2 separate regions of the Homo sapiens genome follow, and region 1 is linked to region 2. The links come from fine-mapping of genetic effects on gene expression. A gene starts in region 2. The other region holds a variant in brackets. All regions are shown on one strand. Distances are between the middles of the regions. Region 1 overlaps TPR (translocated promoter region, nuclear basket protein). Region 2 holds the start of PDC-AS1 (PDC antisense RNA 1).

The links. PIP is the estimated chance that this variant, and not a neighbour inherited with it, causes the effect. A credible set is the group of variants that fine-mapping cannot tell apart.
Region 1: its variant is the best candidate, but not a certain one, in a credible set for the expression of PDC-AS1 in tibial nerve (GTEx, PIP 0.58).

The regions. Positions count from the first base shown.
Region 1 is chr1:186,358,931-186,363,342 of GRCh38, reverse strand. It overlaps TPR (translocated promoter region, nuclear basket protein), which reads left to right. Exons shown (of 51, transcript NM_003292.3): 5 at 1; 6 at 342-506; 7 at 963-1,055; 8 at 1,474-1,554; 9 at 1,634-1,721; 10 at 2,438-2,578; 11 at 2,979-3,070; 12 at 3,347-3,544. Among named protein-coding and RNA genes, the nearest start is that of TPR, 14 kb to the left of the region's middle. The variant A/G (reference allele first, on the strand shown) is at 1,832.
Region 2 is chr1:186,433,090-186,437,501 of GRCh38, reverse strand. It overlaps PDC-AS1 (PDC antisense RNA 1), which reads right to left and starts at 2,341. Exons shown (of 5, transcript NR_126002.1): 1 at 2,213-2,341; 2 at 929-1,144. It also overlaps a transcript of ODR4 not described here.

The sequences.
Region 1 (4,412 bases), 74 kb after region 2:
GGCAAGTACCAGATGATTCCTAATGCATAAACTATAGCTTTTTATTAAAACTCACCTAAATTAAATTTCAAATATAGGCAATAAAGTAATTAAAAGCTGCATTTTGTTTTGTTTTTAATGTCAGAAAATTAAGCATTAGGACAATTCTAGTTCATCTGTTTTGCTTGTTTGAAATTTAAGTTTGTTACAGTTCTTAATGTTTTCTAGTTAAGAATCTATGCAAATACTTAATTTCTGTTTTGAAATAAAATTCTGCTTGTGTCCCTTAGCTACAGACAAAATCTTTTGAATAATCATATATCATCTTTAACTGTACGTGTTATTTTCTTGGATTTCTTTAGTATCGAGAAAAACGCTTGGAGCAAGAAAAGGAATTGCTACATAGTCAGAATACATGGCTGAATACAGAGTTGAAAACCAAAACTGATGAACTTCTGGCTCTTGGAAGAGAAAAAGGGAATGAGATTCTAGAGCTTAAATGTAATCTTGAAAATAAAAAAGAAGAGGTAAGTTAGTAAAATTGTGTTTTTCTTCATGTTGAGTATAACTTACATTTGTATGTCAGTTTATTAAATATGTATTCAGTAGTGTGTACCTGATTAGTTGTAAGATGAGTGGTTAAATGTGAATAATGCATTACATTTGGCGTAAAAAATCAACCAATTGCGTTTACATAAAGAATTTAAGATTCTTTGTCAAATCTGGTTAGTATCTACTGTCTTACGATATATCTTTCCTAAAATATGTGTTTGTTTAAGAAGTGGTGGTAAGTTTTTGTGAGCTAAATCTAAACATTGTTCTGTGAGCAGTTACTCTTAGTTTTCTTAAATATGCATATTTTAATTGCTTTTTCAGGTGGGGAGGGGGAGTTACTTAGCTTTTCCTTAGCAGCATAAACCTCATGTCAGAGTAATTTCAGTTAATATGACATCCTTTCCCCCTGCTCTATTTTTTGTTTTTAGGTTTCTAGACTGGAAGAACAAATGAATGGCTTAAAAACATCAAATGAACATCTTCAAAAGCATGTGGAGGATCTGTTGACCAAATTAAAAGAGGTATATATGACCATTAAAATGTCTTTTTTACAAAATACTAAAGCACTTACGAAGCTGTTATTTCACAAAATGATGTCATTTTTTAATCTGTCCTTGGCCCCATAAAACAGTGAGAGTCCTCCTTCCATATGCTGTAGCTAGGCTAAAATAGAATCAGAAATAGCAATTATATGTTATATTGAAAATACTATCTAAAAAATGAGTATGGGTTAATTTTATTGTTTAATTATTTTACTTTGAATTTAAAATATTAGTAATATTTTATCCTTAATTTATCTTTGTCATGAAGACTGATTTGAATTTGAGTGTTTTAGATTTAGCTCTTACTTTACAAAAATGGAATTTTTCATCTTGTCATTTGATAAGCATTCTAAATTTAGTTCAAAGTAGACTGCTATAATTGGGCTATTTTTTTCAGGCCAAGGAACAACAGGCCAGTATGGAAGAGAAATTCCACAATGAATTAAATGCCCACATAAAACTTTCTAATTTGTACAAGGTAAATATCCCACCACACATGTTAGTATCTAAATGTTGCATTGTTGACTGTTAGGTAACTTTTTAAGATTAACTTTTAGAGTGCCGCTGATGACTCAGAAGCAAAGAGCAATGAACTAACCCGGGCAGTAGAGGAACTACACAAACTTTTGAAAGAAGCTGGTGAAGGTAAGTGTTTTCAGTTATGGGAACATTATTTTTGTTATTGTACTCTTTTTTTTTTTTTACCCTTGTTTTGTATAGATGATTGGATTTAGGTGTTAGACTTTATTTGGGAC[A/G]GAATTAGGTACAGAAGAAAGAACTTTGGATTAGGAAATTCAGAATTATATCTTAAGCAAATGTAAGTTTATATATTTTTGAAAATACAGACAGCAGGGGGTTTTGTTTGTTTTTTATCTAATAATCTTGTATAATTTGCTGATTTCTAATGAGAAAGTTTTCTTTTTTGAAACATTTACTCTGATAATGTTTGAATACTCTTACTTTATAAATAAGACATCCTCTTTATTTGCATTTTGTAAAGTCTTTTATTTCCTCAAATTTTTGCTTTTTTCAATGTATTATATTTATGGTCTTTTCCAATAATTTCCTTTACTTAGGATTAAAGATCAAAATCGAAATCAAAGATATACCTAGAACCACTTTTTACCCTTTGGGTTTCCTTATTTTCTTTGTGGGTAAGAGACATCAAAAGGAGAAACACCAGGCGAAGACAATTCCAAAATTATAAGTAGAGCAAGAACTTTCAATAGATACTGTCAGCTGAAGCCTCTCTAGAAATTTAATATTATCTGCTGAGGGGAGAAGTGACTGATCTGTTGCATTTTGTAAACTAAAATTTTAACTGTATGTTTGAATATTTGGTCTTTAAAATTGTTTTTTAGCCAACAAAGCAATACAAGATCATCTTCTAGAGGTGGAGCAATCCAAAGATCAAATGGAAAAAGAAATGCTTGAGAAAATAGGGAGATTGGAGAAGGAATTAGAGAATGCAAATGACCTTCTTTCTGCCACAAAACGTAAAGGTATGGCTAATAGATGCTTGTTAGTGAGTTGAAATACTACAGCTTTCCTACATAAAAGTCATTTAATTTCACTAATAGTATTTATCTGTCATGCTGTGATGTAGGAAACTCCATCGAGTTATATTAATAGAATTTGTTTTAAAATTAATACTCTTACCTGTATCTTTACAGAATCGGGCATATAAATACCATTTGATCACACACAGTCTTGTAAATTCCCAGGTTATTGCATGATTTTTTAGAATTAGATGTGTTACATGACTTTTTGATGTCATGTATTTAAAATTTTTATAGGAATTACTATATAATGTACAGTACATGTCACTTACCTTGAAAAATTATTAATGGCTTTTAGTTTGGAATTTTACAAATTATACTAGATGTGTATTTGTTGGCACAGGAGCCATATTGTCTGAAGAAGAGCTTGCCGCCATGTCTCCTACTGCAGCAGCTGTAGCTAAGATAGTGAAACCTGGGATGAAACTAACTGAGGTAAGAATGGTATTAAATGTTGTTAAATTCTTTTTCTTCAGCAAATGTATACAAATCTCTTCAAAATTTAATTCTCCCAAAACTTATTTTTAAAATCATCTTATAATTAGTGGATCATTCTAGGAAAGGCTTTCTTTGGTTCCTAGTGCTGTGTAACTAACATAGTAAACATTGCCATTTTGTGTTAGTGTTAAAGAATGTTTATTATGAAACTAGATCAACTAAATATTTGCGTTGTTATGGTTAGATTTGAAACAACCCTTTGTCTACTTTCAGCTCTATAATGCTTATGTGGAAACTCAGGATCAGTTGCTTTTGGAGAAACTAGAGAACAAAAGAATTAATAAGTACCTAGATGAAATAGTGAAAGAAGTGGAAGCCAAAGCACCAATTTTGAAACGCCAGCGTGAGGAATATGAACGTGCACAGAAAGCTGTAGCAAGTTTATCTGTTAAGCTTGAACAAGCTATGAAGGTTGGTTCCATTCCTAAAATTTAGCCGTGGTAACAATACAAATGAGAAATGATTTACTAGGTATTTTTTTTTCTTAAGGTGATTGAGTCAGAAAAATCTAAATACGATTTTCAATAAACACATTTTGAAACTTATTAAACACTGCTGATCTCAAAACGTCATACCTTTATTTAGCAATTTTTATGTATTTCAATTTTTATATAAAATTGTGAAAGCATTTTAACCTTTTTTTAATGCATTTACTATGTTTTCCTTAGGATTCTCAACTAGAGAATAATAGCCAAATCTCCTAAAACTGCTCTTCAAATTAAAATAATCTCTGTGTAATAAAACTCTCCTATTTGCCATAATCATTCTTTATCAGACAGTTGTAATAGCCTGCCTAGAAATAATAATATTGTTTGACCATAGGTAGAACTCCTTTTTTATACCATTTCACAATTTGGCGTGTCTCTATATGCATTATTTTGTTATTGCTCATTTGCTTATTAGAAGTGTTAATGAAATTCATAAAGATTTTTTCCTTTTAAGAGATACTGATGGAAAAAGAGGTTATACTCTGAATGTTTTGCCTTATGGTACAACTATTAACATTACTGAGGGAAATTGTCAAGATTTCTTGAACAAGTTTTATGGAGGAAATTCAGTTAAATGAATTTATATCTACTCTTCTAAACTGATAAATTGTTTCCCTTTTGTTGGAAAAGAATATAAATATATCCCTATTTCAAAATTAAATCTCTGTTGCTGTTATAATTTAGAAGTCAGTTTAAATCCAAGTACTTTATTATATCAGCTGGTTTTTTTCTTCTTCATCAAGTGAAGTCTAGCAGTCCCGCCTGCCTGAGAATATTGACTTTTTTACCAG
Region 2 (4,412 bases):
GCACATGTACCCTAAAACTTAAAGTATAATAAAAAAAAAAGACTGTTTACAAGGGTCTAGGCAGGAAACTAACAAAAGATAGTGAAGCACCACCTATTAACAGGTGAAAGTGACTCCTACCCACAGGCCTGGAGGGGGCAAGAAACCAGTGAGACCTGCAGCTATAGGAAAAAGCTGCCCAACAGGAGCTTTTGCTTTTGGAAGAGAAACACTGCCCCTGTCACTCTGTGGCCCAGGAGGGACAGAGCTTCAGGGAAAAACAACTTGCACTCTCTCCTCGTGCTCTTCTATCTCTTTTCAGAACCTTTCATTGTCAGAATCCAGCTGAAAGCCAGAGGACAAGAGAACCCTGTTGATGAAGTCTGTTAAGTCAACCTTCTCTAGGGATAAAACAGGATGGAGAAAGATAGAACGTGAATTTTAAGAAGCAAATGGAGAATATCCAATACACCACCTAACCACCAAGCCTGTTAGACTCAACAGTCCTCATCTTACTTAACTTTCGGCTACATTGAATGCTGATTACCAATCCCAAATTGAAATTCTTTCCTCACTTTGGTTTTCATAATACCACTCTACAGATTCTTCTCTGCTTCTGTGACCGGGGGCATGCATGCTCCTTGTCTATTGGTGTTTTTCTGGATTAGTCTCCTCCCTCACACTTCAGATGCTGTTATTCCCTCTGACGACTTCAGGTACCATCTACACCGAGGCTTCTGAAAATCACCACTGTTTACATTTTGGACCAGATAATTATTTGCTGTGGGGAGTTGTCTTGTGCATTATAGTATGTTTAGCAGCATTCCTGGCCTCTAACCAGTAGATACTATTAGCATCCCTCCCTCAGTTGCAACAACTAAAACTATCCTCAGACATTGCCGACTGTCCTCTGGAAGGTAAAAATCATCCCCAGGAAAGAACTGCTTACCTCTACATACAGAATATGTATCTTCTGTCCTGAGTTCCAGGCTGATGGAAACTTAATTACCATCATCTGTCTCCTGGACAATTGCAATCATTTCCTAAGTGGGCTCCACAACTCCCAGTTTTCATGCTCACATCAGACTGATCCAAAAAAGACTGTGAATGTGTGAGGGAATCCCAAGGCTGTCAAGCCATGCAGCTGAAAATATTCTTAAAACATCTACGAGACACATGAAAAGAAGTGGAATTGTAAGAGTTTTTGACTTACACTCTGAAACATTTGGGGATGTAGATGCTCTTCTTGATGACCTATGACTTGTGGGAGTGAAGTAGCTCTGTACAGAAATATTGTACCTCCCATTACAGGAAAAGATATTCTTTCAGAAGAAAGTAAACTCAACAGCAGCATTTCTCTAGTCAATTTTCAAAAGTTTGGTCTCTAACTGGAAGTTTAAAACGTGAAAAGAGTATAATGACTAAAATGGTACGAACATATATTTAGATAAAAATATGCAGGCTCTATGACAAAACAGTTATCTTTTACAACAATTGGATTTGAAAAAATTACACACACAATACACACACACACACACATATATTATATACACAAACAATAATCATTTTAACTTGACTTTTCAAGATAGGTGCTACTGCAGTAACTCCTGTGCTTTTAATAACAAAAATTTGAAAAATCATTTAAGAACAAATACATTTGTCATAGGTAGTTGTTTATATGCCTTGCTATGAAAATAAAGTACCTCATGAATAAGTTAGATATTGCATTCCTGAAACATATATAAAAGTCAAATACTATGTATGTTCATAATTACTAAAGAATTGATGTAAAGACAGTATAATCCATGCTGTGGAATAGCTTTGTTGCACCAAAGATAGCCAACATTTTTATGATGTGTTATGTTACATAATTATTTCACATACATTATCTCACTGGAAGAACTACGAGACACAATTGCTCTATGAGGTAGGTAGAACAATGTTTTCAATATGTCCTCCTCAAGGATGACAAAATTGAAGTGTTTGTGGTTAGCTGACTAGTCCAGGTTATGCAACCAGGAAGATATAGAGGTTGAATTTAACCTTGGGCCTCCCATCCCTGGTTCCTGTGCTTTTCATATCACAGCATACTTCATACTGGCAATCATCAATGCAAAGAATGCATTAACAAAAAAATTCAGGATTATCTAAGATTAGAAGATCTACCTTAATATATTTCAGGCCCATATATCGATTCTGCAGGAAAAAAACAAAAACAAAAGAACAAAGTTACCTGGAATCCAGAGAAAGCTTCGGTTAAGTTCCACAACTCTAACAACTAATACAGTGGGTAGGACTCTGGCAGAGAGAACAAAGCAAAGTATAAGGTAATCTCAGTTTTCAATTATGGATATTCATTATTTGGGCAATAGCATTTAAGGAAAACATTTAATTTTATCTTTACTTGAGGCTCTCACCTATAACAGCTGTCAAAGTCTGTTCATCTTTCAGGGATTTTTTTACATAGTATAAAAGAAAATGCTCCTAAAAATTAGTTTTTCATAAAATAAGGTGTTTCACCCTAGGTTATTTTATTTCTTAGAGCGTTCACTCCCTGCTTCCAATAATTGAACACAGACTAGCTTGAATTAAACATGCTATATCAAAAACATTAATTCATTTTTAAAGGTTTACATATATTCATTGCTAACAACATACAATTATTTCCCCTACAGGGTTCCTGTTATAACAAATCAGATGCACTTTCAATAGGCAATAATAATCACACATGAAATTGAACTTTCCGGGTAACTTGAATTACAGAGACTTACATAATAAACTGTGTAAGTCCCACAGAAGTTTAGAAGAATAAGGCCATGGCTCTACATTACATTTATCTTTTATTAAAAATAAATAAAGATGTCATTTTTGCCAATCATTGTATCTCCAATTTATTTTTTCCCTTCTTCAAGCATTTCCAGAGAATGAGGATTTTTAATTTTCTTTTTTGTTGCTTTTGTTTTGGTAGGGAAATGGAAAGGACTTTTAAACCTCCATTTGGCTTTCTCTGAAGGAGCAGCAAGGAGTTTCTATTTGAAACCAGAGTTATTTTACCATTCTTTCCAGTTCCAGAGTAAGAATTTAAAGAGGCAATCATTCCAAACATAATAATAGTAACAAAAACCATAAATGATTTCAATTTAACAGTTATGAGGTATATATTGTCTAATTAGACATTTTTTAAACCCAGGTATTGGCTATTCAAAAGAGATACATTCAAAACATAAGGATACAGAAAAGCAAGATGTAAAATGATGGAAAAACTATATCTAGCAAATACAATTCTTTAAGCAAGTATCAATTAATATCAGACAAATACATTTAAAGAGAAAAAGCATTATTAGATATAGAAATATATCTTATATACATAATATTACTTACATTATTACATAACTATAAAATGGTACAGTACCACTAGGATGATCTAAAAATTTTAAACATATATATGGCTAATAAAATGTCACAGAATATACATAGTAAAAACTGACAGACTACAGGAAAAAAGTGGCAATCCACCATCAGAAATTTCAGTGCAGTTCTTTGAACCTTTGCTAGATCGCGTAACAAAAAATTAGTATCTATGTAGATATTAACCACAGAATTAACAAGTTTGATCTAAAGGACATATTAAAAACACTGCAACTGGCCAGGCGCGGTGGCTCATGCCTATAATCCCAGCACTTTGGGAGGCCGAGGTGGGTGGATCACCTGAGGTCAGGAGTTCAAGACCAGCCTGGCAACATGGCGAAACCCGTCTCTACTGAAAATACAAAAATTAGCCAGGTGTGGTGGCAGGCACCTGTAATCCCAGCTACTTGGAAGGCTGAGGCAAGAGAATCGCTTGAACCCAAGTGGCAGAGGTTGCAGTGAGCTGAGATCACACCAGTGCACTCCAGTCTGCGCCACAGAGTGAGACTCTGTCTCAAAATAATAATAATAAAATAATAAAAATAAAGCATTGTAACTAATAATTAGTAAAGTAGCCACTTTTCCACCTCCAACACACAAGGAACATTTTCAAAAGTTAATAATGAACTAGTATACTGTAAGACAAATTACTCTTTAGGACCACAATGCAATTAAGTAGAAATTAATTACAAATATGTATTTGCTATTAATAATAAATACACATACATCTAAATAACTTCTGTGTTCAAGGAATAAATTATACTGGAAATCTGAAATTCTTAAAACTTAAAAAAAAATAAGAGTATTTTATATCAAAACTTTGGAACATCAAGAAAATATTACTATTAAAAACATAAATTACAAAAGAAGACTTAAAACAAATGGCCTGAGTTTCCAACTAAGTTAAGAAAATAAAGCAAACCCACAAAGTACAAACATAAGGAAATAAGTACATGCATAAATTAATATAAATTTTATAGATAGAATTCACATGCCAAAAATTGGTTCTCTAATAAGATTTTTAA